Linked DNA regions of Homo sapiens: region 2 is linked to region 1. A link means that fine-mapping ties the variant in region 1 to the expression of a gene that starts in the linked region. Tissue or cell type: whole blood. Region 1 holds a variant in brackets; the other region holds the start of a gene. All regions are shown on one strand. Distances are between the middles of the regions.

Region 1 (8,107 bases):
CTTGCTTCAACCAACACTTGAATCGAGCAGCTGTTTGAAGTGAATGCCCATTTCACTCAAAGCAGGTGATCCTATAGCCTTCAAGAAATGGGCTGGGCACAGTGGCTCACGCCTATAATCCCAGGACTTTGGGAGGCAGAGGCAGGCAGATCACTTGGGGTCAGGAGTTCGAGACCAGCCTGGCCAACATGGAGAAACCCCGTCTCTACTAAAAATACAAAAAATTAGCTGGGCATGGTGGCAGGAGCCTGCAATCCCAGCTACTTGGGAGGCTGAGGCAGGAGAGTCACTTGAACCTGGGAGGCAGAGGTTGCAGTGAGCCGAGACTGCACCACTGCACTCCAGCCTGGGCAACAGAGCAAGACTCTGTCTCAAAAAGAAAAGAAAAGAAAATAAATGCTCACACCATGTCTTCGCCAGCTTCAGCTAAAACTGCTCAATGGCAGGGACACATGAGCCTGGGCATGAAGGAATCAGCCTCAACAGGAGGGGGTTGCTATTGGGTTTCTGTTGCTTGTTTTGTTTTATTTTGTTTTGTTCTGTTTTTTTTTTTTTTTAGAGACAGGGTCTCGCTATGTTGCCCAGGCTGGTCTTGAACTTCTGGCCTCAAACAATCCTCCTGCCTCTGCCTCCCAAAGCGCTAGAATTACAGGCGTACGCCACCGTGCCCAGCCTCTTTTTATTTTCTTCTGACGATTCACATCACATTTTAAAAGCTGACGTGAATTTTGCACTTAACTGAGTTGAACTGCTGTGGCCTCATGAACCCCAGGAATCAGGATGGGCTGAAATTATTTGACGGGAAACATTTTCAGGCCTCATGGTTACCCATTGGCAATCACAGGCTCATCTTTCCTCCCCCTTAGAACAGTGGTTCCTGATATTTTGCGGAGCAGGGAGCGCTTTGAGAATTTAAGGTATGGCCTCTCTTTTCAGGAATCCAAGGAAAGGCACAAATTCAGCATTTTGCATTTATCTGCAGGGAGTCAGAGACTGCCTAACCCTTGCCTTGAAAGCCTGCCTCAGTCCAACGCCCTTGAGTCCCATGCCCGCCACAGCACTGTGATACCAAGAGACTGTTGCCCAAGAGGTGGAGATTCTTTCTCGTGGAGCAGAGGAGGGAGGGTCAGAGATCCAGCCATGAGGAGTGGGGAGCGGGGGACTGCAGGGGCAATGAGCTGCCCTGTCTCGCTGTCATCTGCACCGGTGAGGATTTCGAGCCATCTGACAGACCCGTGACTGCTTGGGAGGTTCAGACCCAGGTGCTTGCGTATCTGCCTCCCTGGAGGTCTTTAAATTAAGATCCATCATTTGTCCAAAACAGCCAGGCCAGGGCCTTACCCAGTGGCCAGGGTCTACCAGGCCCCTCCTCTCCACCCTCACCATCAACATTTTTTTCTTTTTTTCCTTCGTTAGCACCCTTCTATCGCTACCCTTTCCTGCTCGTCCTTTCCACGCTCTTTCTTTATTCCAGCTCTGCCTTACTCGAGCAAATGGCATCACCAAATTCCAAATACTACACTCACAGCGAGCAAATGGCATCACCAAATTCCAAATACTACACTCACAGCGAGCAAATGGCATCACCAAATTCCAAATACTACACTCACAGCGAGCAAATGGCATTACCAAATTCCAAATACTACACTCACAGCGAGCAAATGGCATCACCAAATTCCAAATACTACACTCACAGCGAGCAAATGGCATCACCAAATTCCAAATACTACACTCACACCTCCTCAATCCTCAAGTGAGATGCCATTGAGCCCGGAGGCAGCAAGGGGGATCAGGTGGCCTTGGAAGGTCCTCCCTACCCAGAATCTAGCTCCAAACCCCAGAAACCTGCAAACTCATGGAGAATCTCTGACTGCTGAGGACTAGTGTCCTCTGATATCACAGCATCCACACAGGGTGAGGTGTCGAGGCCCACCACTCCCTCCAACAAGGCGTTCTCCTTACCTTGTAGGATGGGGTCTCTGTGCCTGGGGTCTCGACCTGCACGACGATGTAGGCATGTAAGAAATTGGAGGCTATCATGTCTGGGACAAACGGCGTGTTTTCCTCTTGGAAGATGATGGCCACGATGTCATTTCCAATGTGTCTCTTTCTCTGGAGCTAAATAAAAAGTGTTGAGAGGTTATAAGCCAGTTAGGAAAATCATGAAAGATGTTTTGGGGAAAGAGTGGGTTCACTTTCCTTTGCACACAGGAAAACTGAATTCTGAGTGAGAAGAGTTCGTGGTTGTTGTTTTGGAAGTTTAAGTATGAAAGCACAGTACCAATGCCAGGCAGCAAGGGGAGAAGTGCATGGAACACGCTTCGTGCTTTGTGTATCTTTTGAGTTGCTTTCCTATTTGGGGAAAACCAGGGGGGTTCTTCTTTCAATCTTTTTTTTTTCTTTTTTTTTTTTTTTTGAGACAGGGTCTCACTGTGTTGCCCAGGCTGGAGTGCCGTGGCACGATCTCGGCTCACTGCAACCTCCGCCTCCTGGGTTCAAGTGATTCTCCCACCTTAGCCTCCCGAGTAGCTGGGATTACAGACGCGTGACACTACACCCACTAATTTCTGTATTTTTTGGTAGAGACGAGGTTTCACCATGTTGGCCAGGCTGGTCTTAAACTCCTGACCAGCCCGCCTCAGCCTCCCAAAGTGCTGGGATGATAGGCATAAGCCACTGTGCCCAACCTTCTTTCAATCTTTAGAAGCCACCAAAAAGGAAAAAAAAAATGGGGAAGATGGCCAAGTCGTTAGGTAGAGGCTAGCGAGCATCTTACTGACCTCTACAGCATGCAGATCCCTGACTCAGGACTTGGCAAGAATATTTAAAAGGCAAGGCGGGGTCTTGCCCTGGTAGAGCCTGTCATTGATCTGGGAGAAATACAAACACAGGTGAAGCCACCTGAGAAAACTAACAAAGCCACCAGCCAGCAAGGGCTAAGTCAGCTGCTGTGCATGAAATCCCTGACAGCTCTGGAGACAGAGGCAAGGGCAAAATTACAGGGCTGGAAAGCAACCTGAGAGGGCTTCCTGGAGGAGGAGACGTGTCAGGGGGTCTTGAAGGTGTGAATGAGAGTGATGAGGTGGCAGATCATGACAGCACTGCTCACCCAGCTTGGCGTAGGTGGGATGGAAGGAGGATCCCAACCATAACTCCATATCCCAAGCAGGGCCAGGTGCTTCTGGGTGTGATCTCGGCCACCAAGCACCTGGTGTGTCCCTGGAACCATGTTGGGCTGTTCATGCATGATATCAAATGTTAACCCTGTCCTGAAGTTCAAGGCCGCGGTGAGCTATGATCGCACCACTGCACTCCAGCCTGGGTGAGAGAGTGACAGCCCTCCTCACACACACACAAAAACCCGCTCCTGTATGTCGAGTCCTGGCTAGGTGCCTGTCTATGCATTTGTTCCTTTGTTAAGCACCCACTGCATGCAGGCCCAATGCTCAGTCCCTTCACACTGAGTTTCTCATTCACTGAGCACCTGTTTTACACCAAGCACTGTGCTGGGCACTTTCACACAAATTGCCTCACTTACTCCACGCGCATCTTTCCATTTCTCAGGAAGAGAAACTTAATATTTACTCAGTCCCCGCCAAGAGCCGAGCCCTGTGCCAAGGTGTATTTCCCAAGAAACACACATAAGACTGAGAAGGCCCAGAGAGAACAGGCCTCAGGCCCAGGCCGGGGCAGCAGGTGAGAGAGGCCATAAGGGAACAGAGGGGCTGGAGGTGAAAGGTTGAATGAAAACCCACTTTGGATACAAAAGGATTTCTGCTTCCATTTGTTTCTGGAACATTCAGTAGCTATTTTAGAGCCAACTCATCATCTCGTTTGCCAATTTCCTTCTTTCCTAAGAAGCCAGGCACTATGTTTACAATTTTACATCTGTGCTCCCTCCCCAGTTCCTGCTCAGAGACACACAGGTCAGAGTTTGGGCAAAGGCCTGCCTGCATTTTCTTATTTTCCCAGACTGAAAAGGGGCAGAAGGCAGGCTGGGGGAACTGGGCTTGTAACAGCCAGGAACCAGCCGCGGCTCTCCCCAGGGATGCACGGCTGTCAGAGCAGCAAACGGGGGGCACGGCAGGAAAGCAGTGGGGACAGGGGTCTCGTCCAGGTCTCCCTAGTGGAGGTCAAGGCTGAATTCCCACAGGTGTGGTGAGAGAGGAGCCTGTGAGATGAGGAAGGCTGGGGGTGGGGAAGGATTCTCACGCAATAACCAGCCTTCCGTCACTGGGGCAGGAAGGGGGACAAAATGACCAGGGGCTGGACAGTGAACAGCTGTTCTATAGGAAGCCAGCCATGAATTGGGCATCGTATGAACCCTAGTCAGAAATGTATGTAATCCCCACAATCACCCTCTACCATGGGTGGTGTTACCCC[CCA/A]TTTTATAGATGAGAAGGTTAACTGGCTTGCCCAGAGTCACACGCTCCAAAGTGGCACAGGCGGCTTCAGGCCCCCATCTGCAAACCCCACCATGCACCCTTTGCCACCACCCTCTATGACCAGGGCCCCCAGGCTCTGCCCTGGGCTCTGCCCCTGATAAACGGAGAAACCTCAAGGAAGTCTTGTCACCACCATGGGCTGCAGTTTTCCCATCAGTCAACGTGGAAGAAACACAAGCTCTGCCCCGCCTCCCGCCCAGGGCCCCTGAGGTGTGGCCTCGGCCAGAAACACAACAGAACGGACCGCTGAGGCACAGCCTCGGCCAGAAACACAGCAGAACGGACTGTGACGCTGCTGCGCAGCTGAACGAATGGCCGGCTACGGGAACGAATATGGGGACGGCCACAGCCTCTTAGCAGGTCAGACCAGAGGCAGGCCCTCACCTCGCCCGCCCTGGGCTCCCAAAGCCCTCCCAAACCAGGTTACCTGCTGGGCGTCTCCGTCGGTAAATGGCAGCTTTGTGGAAACGTGAAACATGATCTCCCTGTCCCGGAATGTTGTGTACACTGATTCCACCCCTGTCTGTCCGTGGGTCACGTCCAGGCCTCCTCGGAAACTGTCAACAAAACAGGGCAGGAGATGGGGAGAAAAGAGAGTGAGGCAAAGTGGGCAACTTAATGCAAGCTCCCCTAAGTATACGCAGCAGAGGATACGCAGCAGAGGAGACAGGAGAGCTGAGGGCAGAGCAGGCTGTGATGTGGGAAAAGCAGGTAGATCTGTTCTTCCAGGTATATCAGCGCTGGCACTCTACCCACAAACCCATTATTTAGACAAAGCTGGCCGGGCGCAGTGGCTCACGCCTGTCATCCCAGCACTTTGGGAGGCCGAGGCAGGCAGATCACCTGAGGTCAGGAGTTCGAGACCAGCCTGGCCAACATGGTGAAACCCCCGTCTCTACTAAAAATACAAAAGTTAGCCAGATATGGTGGTGCATGCCTATAATCCCAGCTACTCAGGAGGCTGAAGCAGGAGAATCGCTTGAACCCAGGAGGTGGAGGTTGCAGTGAGCCGAGATGGCGCCACTGCACTCCAGCCTGGGCAACAAGAGCAAGACTCCATCAATCAATCAATCAACCAATCAATCACAAAGCAGAACCTCCATCTCAAGCCTTGGCTGTGCCGTGTCCACACTTGCTGGTTATATGGGAAGGAAGCGCATCCATCCACAATCCCAGACAAATGCCCATCCCCGGTGCCATTCCCCCAAGGTGGGGCGCCGGCCTTTCTTTGCTCTCTGCAAGGCCATGTCCAAGTCCTCTGCCCAGAGCTAGGGCAGCCAGCCATCCTGGTGGCTGGTGGGGAGCCCCAGAGGAGCATCTGGAGTCAGTCAGAAGAGGTGGCAGATGCTCAACTTCTGCCTAGCTAGTCCCTAAGATACAGGCCCAACCACTGCAGCATCCCGCTTGGGAGTATCCAGGGAAGTCCCTTCTCTGGCTGTCTCCTCACAGGCAAGAAAGAAAAGCTCTAAGGAACTGGGTGGGCTTCCAGGAGTTGTCCCTTCTGCCTTTATACACACGGCTGCCAGCTTTGATCACAGTCTTCAGCAGATGCAGGTTCCTTTAAGAAAATGAAATAAGATGGACCTAGAATCTCAGCATCCCCAACACTACAATACAAGCCAGAAAATGTGCCCAGGCTGGCATGGCAGAAAGAATGCTGGACAGGGGGCAGGAGCTCCGGGTTCTAGACCTGCTTCTGCCACTAAATCAGCACGTGATCGTGGACAATTCATTTAGTCTCTCTAGGCCTCCATAAAATAAAGGGATAGAATTTCATAACTCTGAGGACCTTCTGGGCTTACTATACTGTATTTCAGCTATTCTAAGGCCCACGTTTAGTTTTGGTTTCAGTCAGGGGTTCACTCTGTCATCCAGGCTGGAGCGCAATGGTGTAATCATGGCTGACTGCAGCCTCAACCTCCTGGGCTCAAGCGATCCTCCTCGCCTCAGCCTGCCAAGTAGCGGGGACCACAGGAGCACACCACAATAGTCAGCTAATTTTTATAATTTTTCAAATTTTTGTTAATGACAGGGTCTCACCATGTTGCCCAGGCTGGTCTCAAACTCCTGGGCTCAAGCGATCCACCCGCCTCGGCCTCCCAAAGTGCTGGGCTTACAGGTGAGACCCACCATGCCTGGCCGTTTTTTCACATTTTAAAGTCACAGGATGTGTCTTATAATGATAGCATCTCAAAGTCAATGGAAGGTGGCAATATAAGAACAATAACAATCGTGACTAGCTAGCCCTGAACAGCACTTAAGTGTTTCGTGAGCATTATCTTATCTTTTATTTTTTATTTATTTATTTATTTTTTTTTTTTTAGACAGAGTCTCACTCTGTTACCCAGGCTGGAGTACAATGGCACAATCTCAGCTCACTGCAGCCTCCATCTCCTGGGTTCAAGCGATTCTCCTGCCTCAGCCTCCCAAGTAGCTGGGACTACAGGCACGTGCCACCACGCCCGGCTAATTTTTCGTATTTTTAGTAGAGACGTGGTTTCACCATGTTGGCCAAGATGGTCTCAATCTCCTGACCTCGTGATCTGCCCGCCTCAGCCTCCCAAAGTGCTGGGGTTATAGGCGTGAGCCACCACGCTCAGCCCATTATCTTATTTTAATCCCCCCAAAACCTTTTAGGGCTGACACTATCTTTACCTCCTTTTTTTTTTTTTTTGACAGAGTCTCCCTCTATTGACCAGGCTGAAGTGCACTGGCGCAATCTCAGCTCATTGCAACCACTGCCTTTTGGGTTCAAGCGATTCTCCTGCCTCAGCCTCCCAAGTAGCTGGGACGACAGGCACCTGCCACCATGCCTGCCTAATTTTTTTTTTTTTTTTTTGTATTTTTAGTAGAGACGGGGTTTCACCATATTGGCCAGGCTGGTCTCAAACTCCTGACCTCGTGATCCACCCACCTCGGCCTCCCAAAGTGCTGGGATTACAGGCGTGAGCCACTGAGCCCAGCCCTTTATCTCGCTTTTTACAGTGAGGAAACTGAGGCTTATAGAGGTCAAGTCACTTATCCAAAGTCACAGAGCTAATAAGTGATGGAGCGGGGGTTTTATCCCAGGTGTGACTGACCCCAGACAGCCGTGATGACCTTGAGGGAGGGAGAAGATGGAGGAAGAGAGGAAAGGAAAAAGAAGGAAGGACAGAGAAGGAAGCAGAGGAAGAAAGCAATTAGTGAATATCCGCTGTGTGCCAGGCACTGGGCTAGGTATTTTCACACGATGTGAGGAGCTCATGTCAATCTGGCTGCTGGGATGGAGAATTCTGGGGCCTGGAGCCATCTGCCAGCCACCAAGGACAAAACAGGCTGGCCAGGTCTGGACTCATCCCAAATGCGGTCTTGGCCAAGGAAAGTCAAGGGCCAGAGTTTTCCAAGCAACGGCCCCAATGTTCTATCTTACTGCCCACTTAAAAAAGCATAGACTGAGCCAGGCACGGTGGCTCACGCCTGTAATCCCAGCACTTTGGGAGGCCCAGACGGGCGGATCATGAGGTCAGGAGATCGAGACCATCCTGGCTAGCATGGTGAAACCCCGTCTCTACCAAAAATACAAAAATTAGCCAGGCATGGTGGCGCGCGCCTTGTAGTCCCAGCTACTCGGGAGGCTGATGCAGGAGAATCGCTTGAACCCAGGAGGCAAAGGCTGCCATGAG
Region 2 (8,107 bases), 200 kb after region 1:
TGGGGCAGACCCTGGTGGGTTGTATCAGGCACAGAGGTTCAGAGCGGGGAAGATCACGTTTGCTGCAGACTGCCCTCACAGCCAGCTCCTCCATCCCCAGCCTGTGCCCGCCCTCACTGGAAGGGGAGACAGCGCCGCTGAGGTTCTATTTTTACCCCCCTGCATATGCCAGCCCTTATGGCTGGCAAGAAGAGGCCCCTCCTCCCTCTCCAGAGGCAGAAAGGTGGACAGTGTTCCCACTGTCAGTATCTCCTCTTGTGGAAGGGTCGTGACCACCACTGTCACCAGCACTGCCACCAGCACCAATGCTGCCTTTGCAACATCACGATTCGTGTCACCATCACTGTCCATGTCACCACATGTCATCATCAGTGTCACCATCACTGTCAGCTTCACTAAAACTGCCACTGGCTCCAGCATGCTGGAGACCCTGGAGGCTCTTTCCGGCACCCTTCTCTGGCCAGCCCAGCGCTGCCTCAGGCTTCCCACAGTCACAGCTCCAGGGAAGAGGAGAGGACACGGAGCTGAGCCAGCCCACAAGTCACCCTGAGGCCTGGAGCTAGGGGACGGGGTCCTTTCACTCTGAGTAAACTCCCAGCACCTTCTGATCTCAGTTACAACAGCAAAGCAAGCGGCACCCCGAGGGGCCTGGCCCACGTCTCTCCCAGTTTCTTCCTCACACGTCCTCTTGAGTCCCTTCCTTAGGGCTTCCACTACTGGTCCCTGAGGGTCTCACCCTGGAATCCCCACCCGCTCTGGGGTGCAGACCCTCCTCTTCCCCCATTCAACGCACAGACACCCAGATCCGAGCAGGACTCAGAGCCCCACACTCTGCTGTAACGCGTGCAACCCAGAGCTGCCGGATGGCAGCCCCTCACAGCAGGCGCTTAGGTTTTACATTTTCTCAAGGAATCTCCTAATTCTTACAACAGCCCTGTGTTGTGGGTAAGGCAGAAATCCCCCACTGACACAAGGGGAAACTGAGACCCAGAGAGAGGAAGTGTCCCATTAGAGTTCCTCAATGGTCAAGGTGGAGTCGGCGCTGGAACCGCTGGAACCGGGGCTCCTGGTGCGTGCACCTCTGACCGCTGTCGGGTCAGCCCCGCCCACCGCACCACCTACAGGCACCGTGGTCACAGCAGCCCTGGTTCAAACCACGCCTACACAGCAGCCAGCCCACCAGAGTTCCCACATCAGGGTGTGGCCTCAGGAGGGCAGGGCTCTGGTTTTGGAGAGGCTGAGATGGGAGATGGAGAGGACTGTGAGGCTGGGCCTTTCCCTTTCAGGAAGCCAAGGCTCCTGGGCACTCCTCCCTCTCCCATCCCATCCCACCCACCCTCATCACCTTGTCTGCCCCTGGTGCCAGAGGTTATCCACCCTGCATCCAATGGAGCTTGGAAAACACCAGCCCCAGAGATTCTGTTCACTGTCTGGAGGGACCAGGGCTCCAGGAATCCGTGACACCCCCTCCCAGCTGACAGCCATCCCAGATGAGGAGGCCCAAACCCCAGTCTCGCCCCCTTTCTTGCTGCCTTAACCTTCCAAGCCCAGAAGGCCCCGCCATCCCGTCAACCTCAAGGGGCCCCAAGCAGACACCTGCTGTGTGCAAAAGACCTCGATGAGTCCACAAGCATCGACTGAGCCTGTGTGACATGCCAGGCTTCCAGGTGAACGCGACGGGGCAGGGCCTGCCCTCCTGGAACCCACAGCCTAGTGGACACTGAGCCAGCACACAAGGGCGTCTGGGACATCCTAGGGCTCTTCCTCCACCTTCGGCTCACCCTAGACCTCCTGAATCTGAATGTGCATTTCATTAAGGAAGCCCCAGTGAGAAGGGCTGCTAGAGAAGAACTTGGAATTCTGCTTTCTATCTTGGCAGCCCTGGGCAGCCACACTCCTGTCTTCCCCCTCACCTGCCCAGATTCAAATCTCAGGCCTGGCTTTGCCTTGTGCTCTGGAGCTGTGGGTCTCAACACAGAGGGCTTCATATGGAATGAAGCTAGGCTGAGACCGGGACCTGTGCACCCGGAGCTTTCTGGCGACCAGCCTTCCATCTGCTCCACACCTCCCAGAGAAAGGCGGGCCTTGGAGGGCACAATCTAATTGCTGGGCCCTGCCCTGCAAGGCCCACAGCCAAGACACACACACCCCTCCCAACCAGAAGCCAAGTCCTCTGCTGCCTCCCGGACACTGGCACCTACCCTCGGGGTGGCAGCTCCCAGATCCAGGCGTCAGGGAGGGCCCGAGAGCAGACACAGGCGACGCTGTGCCATCTTCTCATCCGCACCATCCCATCTGCCAAACATGGAGTGCCCACAGTCCCCCCCTGCCAGAGGATGGATGGCAAAGTGCTTTTGAAGAGGAGGAAGAGGGAAATAAGCCACACACACGGAAGCGAAAAATTACCGAGGAACACAGCCCCTCTCCCCCTCGCCCTTCGTGCCACCCCCATTAGTCCACCATTTTCCACACCGGGACACCCCCCGGCCACCTCCCGCGGGGCCCTCTCCCAGTCTGACAACGCCCCCAGCCCAGGCACTGAAAGGAAACCGATCATGAAAACCACCAGACTCTGTTCCCCAGCTGCGAAGAAGCTGCCAGCACTGGGAACCAGAGACAAGCCTTTGGCCTTCGTGTGCCTACCTTCTGCCCCCCGCCGGGAAGAAAAAGCACATCCCTCATCCCAGACAGAAGCTTAGAGGCAAGAGTGTCCAGAGGGCCAGGCAGGAGGCTGGGGACAGATGCAGCTGCTCAGGCTAGGACAGAGCTAGGGTGGGCTGCCTGGGGTGCAGGTGGGAGACCTTCTCTCACAACCCACCCCCAAGACAGCAGGCAGCCCAGAGGTCCAGCAGGTACAGACTCCCCTGCCACAAGGCCACAACAACAGCACAGACAGGAGCATCACACACACAAACACGCAGACACAAGCACACACAGACACAGAAGGCCAGAAGTGCAGACAGGCAGCTGCCCACATGCACAGGCACACACCTCACACACGGTCACACGGACTGGCAGTCACAGCCACACACACACGCCTGCACACACAGGCTCAAACGCGCACACACACACTTACACATAATCCCAGACACGCACACACATACATGGGAACCTGCGGACACAGAGACACACACATTCAACTGCAGTCACACTCATGCTATCCACCTCCCCACGGGCAGCCGGCGCAGACCTCCAGGATTCGCCAGCAGATTGTGCCCAGGGACAGTGGGGAAGGCTTACGGTCTCTGATGTCCCCACCAGGATCCTGCATCTCGACCTGCCAGGGCGTCAGCAGACCCAGCTCTCAGGCACAGCCCGAGCCCCTCTGTTCCCACGGCCGCCAATGCACTTAACAAGACTTCACTTCTAAGTTCTCTCCCATCATTCCCCCACCCTCCCACCTGTCACCCACCATCCGAAGCCCCCAAAGGAGACACTGCGCTTCCGGCCAAACATGGTTGTGGCTGCAGAGCCCGGGGTCCCAGCGATGTCCCAACGACGTCCCCGGGGCTGTCCGCAAGAGGGCCGTGGTACAGCGGGGTCAGTGCCGGTGCAGGGCGGGGAGCCCAGCGTGGCACCTCCCTCTTCGCCTGCCCCCAACCCGAGCTTCCTGTGGGTGAGGCTGCAGAGCTGGGAGGTGTGTCCTGCACTCCAGGAGGCACCAAGATAGGCCGAGGAGGTTGTGGAGGGCAGCTTCCCCACACCCAGAGGAACCCACAGCTCCGGAAGGGGCTCGGCTGGCAGATTGCTCCACAGCCCCAGTTAGCAGCCCGGCCCACACAGCCCCAGCTTCCTGGAACCCAAAGGCGCCCCAAGGATTCCCACAGCCACGCCTAGGAGGGACAGAAAGATTCAGCTGGAAGCCTCAGGGACGCCTGAGCACTGGGGACCTTCACACCCACTCCCGAGGGCTGCCTGAGACAGGGACCTTTGCCTGCCTGCCCCACCATGGCTCGGCACACGCCAGAGGAACCAGCCACACACATGTCATTCCACTAGCACACGTGGATGTAAGTATACATGCACACGCATGGGCACAGGGGCACGTGGGATGCACACATGGACACACACACGCCCAGGATACCCAGGTACACACAGATACATGCACGCAGACATACGTATCATTAGACACCTGTACACACCTGAGCACAGCGCGGCACACACGCTCCCGTGCACATCCACACACCACTTCACACAGGCATCAGTAGACACACCTGCACACGCTTCTCACATACTGACAAAGCCCCATTGGACACGTGCACAGACATGAACGCATACACATGTGCCCGCAGGCACTCATCCACATACTCAGACCACATCACACTGCAAGGGGCATTCGCATGTACACACACATGGGCACAGAGCTGTACCTGTCAGCCGCCCCCCACCCCCGCCGCCAAGTGTCTAGACAGAGGTCAGAGCAGTGGCATGCTTCACGCTGGCTGTGTGGGGTGGGGGGGCGGTACCCATGTGCGGGTGGATTTGTCTTCCCAGCTGAACCGCAGGGTTCGTCCTCATCTCTGCATGCTCAGGTGCTGGTCCTCATGCCACAGGGCTAGCGTGTCCTGCACGCATCCCAGTCTGCACACCACAGGGCCAGTGCTCATCTCTGCACGCACTGGTGCTGACCACACCTGGTACACAGCAGGCACTTACTAATGGCAGCCCCTCAAAGGGATGTGGCACGTACACTACAACAGACACTGGGGGGAGTGGGCACAGATAGGGCCCCAGGCCCCACCCTACCCCCAAGCAGTGGAGAAAGGGAAGAAAACGTCTCAAAAAAAAAAAAAGAAGAAGAAGAAAGGCCGGGTGTGGCGGCTCACACCTGTAATCCCAGCACTTTGGGAGGCCAACGCGGGTGGATCACCTGAGGTCAGGAGTTCGAGACCAGCCTGGCCAACATGGTGAAACCCCATCTCTACTAAAAATACAAAAATGAGCCAGGCATGATGGCAGGTACCTATAATCCCAGCTACTCTGGAGGCTGAGGCAGGAGAATCGTTTGAACCTGGGAGGCAGAGGTTGCAGTGAGCCAAGATCATGCTGTTGTACTCCAGCCTGTGCAACAAAGAGCAAAACTCCATCTCAAAAAAAAAAAAAAAAAAAAAAAGGAAAAAAACGGCCCTAGCTGGTGCCATTGGCCTCTCTCTCTGGCCAACCCTCCCTGAAATTTCCTCTCTGGCACCTGCTGCCACTGTGAAGGTCCTAGACTCCGTGCTGAGGTGCCAGGGGCCAACCCCAGCTTGTGGACGAAGGGTACAAGGATTTCTATTTTCTTGACTCCTTCACAGCAGGGGACAGCACAGGGGCCTCAAGCCCTGAGTGGGCTGGGGGAGCAGCTTCAGGGTCCTGGGCCAGAGCAGGGCTGGGGGCTGACTCTCTACCTCCAAGGCAGCTAGTCCCCAGCAGGAGCCCGGAGGCTTCCCCCAACCCTCACCTCTGCCCCAGGAAAGTTAGGATTGTGTGGTTCATGCTCTGGGGTGGCTTCAGGCTGCTGGCTTCCCACAGGATGGCCACTGCAGAGTGCCACAAGCGCCTCTCTCCCCAGAGGCACCCACCCACACCCAGGAAGTGCTCAACAGGTACCGTGGACAACTTGGGTCCTGCCTGCCCTGCCTCCATCTGAGAAGAACCCTCTGCACTCAATCCACCTCCAGGGTCAGGAGTGGGCACCTGACCAGGCCTGGCCAGCCAAGGGGACTGGTTCAGGAGACCTAAGTAAACCCAACAAGACACCATCCCAAGAGGCTTCCCCTGCTGAAGCATGAGATGAAAGCCTGGGGCTGTGGAGAGTGTGGGGAAAATGAAACCGACTCACAGGAAGGCAGAGAAGAGAACTGACAGAGAAAGGGAAAGAGGAGAAAGATCATGTCTTTTTTTTTTTTTTTTTTGAAGAGTCTCGCTCTGTCACCCAGGCTGGAGTGCAGTGGCACGGCTCACTGCAACCTCCACCTCCCTGGTTCAAGTGATTCCCCTGCCTCAGCCTCCCACATATCTGTTTACAGGCGCCCGCCACCACGCCCAGCTAATTTTTGTGTTTTTAGTAGAGACAGGGTTTCACCATGTTGGCCAGGCTAGTCTCGAACTCCTGACCTCCGGTGATCCACCCGTCTCAGCCTCCCAAAGTGCTGGGATTCCAGGCGGGAGCCACCACACCCGGCCAAAAGATTGAGTCTCAAGGGCATCATCTGAGCTCCAGGATCCGGCTGTGCCAGGAACCAGCTGACCCCGGGTATAGGAGAGCCAGCCGTACGAATAAAGAGTTATTCCTAAAGCCAGTATGAGTTGGATTTCTTTCATTCTCCATTAATAAAGTCCCAACTAAAGAAAAGAGCTTGACAAGTGAACAAGTGAAAGTGGGAACAGTCAGCCCACCTGGCCTCCCGCCGCTGACAGCAACACCTGCTCTAGGCCAAGCACCATGCTGGGTGCAGAAAGCACCAGGGTGAGCCAGGTACAGCCCACAGCCTCAGTTGGGAGGTGCTGGGGTTGGAGGTGTTGCATACGTTGCAAGAATTCCTGTTGCAGGCCGGGTGCAGTGGTTCACGCCTGTAATCCCAACACTTTGGGAGACCGAGGCAGGGAGATCACCTGAGGTCAGGAGTTCGAGACCAGCCTGGCCAACATGGTGAAACCCTGTCTTTACTAAAAGTACAAAAATTAGCCGGGCGTCGTGGCACATGCCTGTATTCCCAGCTACTCAGGAGGCTGAGACAGGAGAATCGCTTGAACCTGGGAGGCAGAGGTTGCAGTGAGCCAAGATCACGCCACTGCACTCCAGCCTGGGCGACAAGAGCGAAACTCTATCTCAAAAAAAAAAAAAAAAATCCTGTTGCAAATTACTTTTTTAAAAAATCAGTTAGAGGGAGTTAATGACAGGCCCATCTTTGGAGTATACGTTGATGCGCTTTCATACATGAGAGAGAAGCGGGGTGATAGTCACATCACACTTGGGCACGCCTCACCACCCACACTGACCACATGTGAAAGCTGCCCGCCGCATGCATTCTAGGGGAAGACAAAGCTGACAGATGCTTTTATCTGGGGCCTCCCGGTCTATGGAGACAGCCAGGTAAATGCCCAGCTATGAACACCTGGACCAAGTGTTCCCAGAGCCGGGACAGACTCCGGCCCAGGCACAGACATCTGAACGGCAGCCTGGAGACAGGGAAGGGGTGCGTTTCGAGGCCTCCGCTGCTGCCACCCTGAGGCTGGTTTCCCCCACCGGGGGGTGTGCCCCTGACAGCCACAAACAACACTCCTGAGTCAGACACCCGGCCAAGGAGCAGGACTGGCCCGGCTGCCGGCCCTGCAGAACCCACAGCCTGGACTTCTTCGATGCCGCTGGGATCCAGGAACCTTGGAGAAACCAGGAGGATCCAGGGGCCCACACGTCCCCAGACTGAGGGCTGGAAAGGGGGAAGGGACTCTCCCAGACGGCTCATGGCCCATCATGAGCCCTGCAGGGTGTGAGAGTCTTCCTAGGGCCTTTCCCACGCTGCCTTCCTCTCCTTCCTTGGGGCCCAGCGACCTTGGGCAAGTTACCTAATCTCTCCAGGCCTCAGTTTTCTCTTCTGTAATTTGGGGAGGCTGCCACCACCTTCACGAGTTTATCAGCAAACAGAAACACTGAGCACGGGGCTCCAAGGCCGTCACGGGAGCTGCTATCATTACTGTCAAGGACGATTCTGTCCCTGCTTCAGTCCCGCGCAGCTTCTTGACCCCCTGCTCTGACCCTGTGATTCCTCTTCCATGTGCCGTGCACAGCAAGGAGACTGTGGGCTCCCTGGGAAGGATTGTGAGTCAAGAGACAAGGGAAGCGGCCAGGCGCACTGTCTCACGCCTGTAATCCCAGCACTTTGGGAAGCCGAGGCAAGCGGATCACCTGAGGTCAGGAGTTCAAGACCAGCCTGGCCAACATGGTGAAACCCCACCTCTACTAAAAACACAAAAATTAGCCAGGCATGGTGGCGGGCACCTGTAATCACAGCTCCTCGGAAGGCTGAGGCAGGAGAATCGTTTGAGCCTGGGAGGCGGAGGTTTCAGTGAGCCAAGACCGTGACATTGCACTCCAGCCTGGGTGACAGAGTGAGACTCCATCTCA

Evidence for each region. PIP is the estimated chance that this variant, and not a neighbour inherited with it, causes the effect.
Region 2: RAP1GAP2 starts here. The variant in region 1 is fine-mapped to the expression of RAP1GAP2 in whole blood (TOPMed, PIP 0.97).

What each region holds. Positions count from the first base shown.
Region 1 is chr17:2,992,232-3,000,338 of GRCh38, reverse strand. It overlaps RAP1GAP2 (RAP1 GTPase activating protein 2), which reads right to left. Exons shown (of 25, transcript NM_015085.5): 13 at 4,873-5,002; 14 at 1,963-2,118. Among named protein-coding and RNA genes, the nearest start is that of RAP1GAP2-AS1, 30 kb to the right of the region's middle. RefSeq lists an enhancer at 4,635-5,135 and a silencer at 5,385-5,561. The variant CCA/A (reference allele first, on the strand shown) is at 4,384.
Region 2 is chr17:2,791,877-2,799,983 of GRCh38, reverse strand. RAP1GAP2 (RAP1 GTPase activating protein 2) reads right to left here and starts at 3,546. Exons shown (of 25, transcript NM_015085.5): 1 at 3,413-3,546. The coding sequence starts at 3,456. RefSeq lists an enhancer at 7,080-7,319.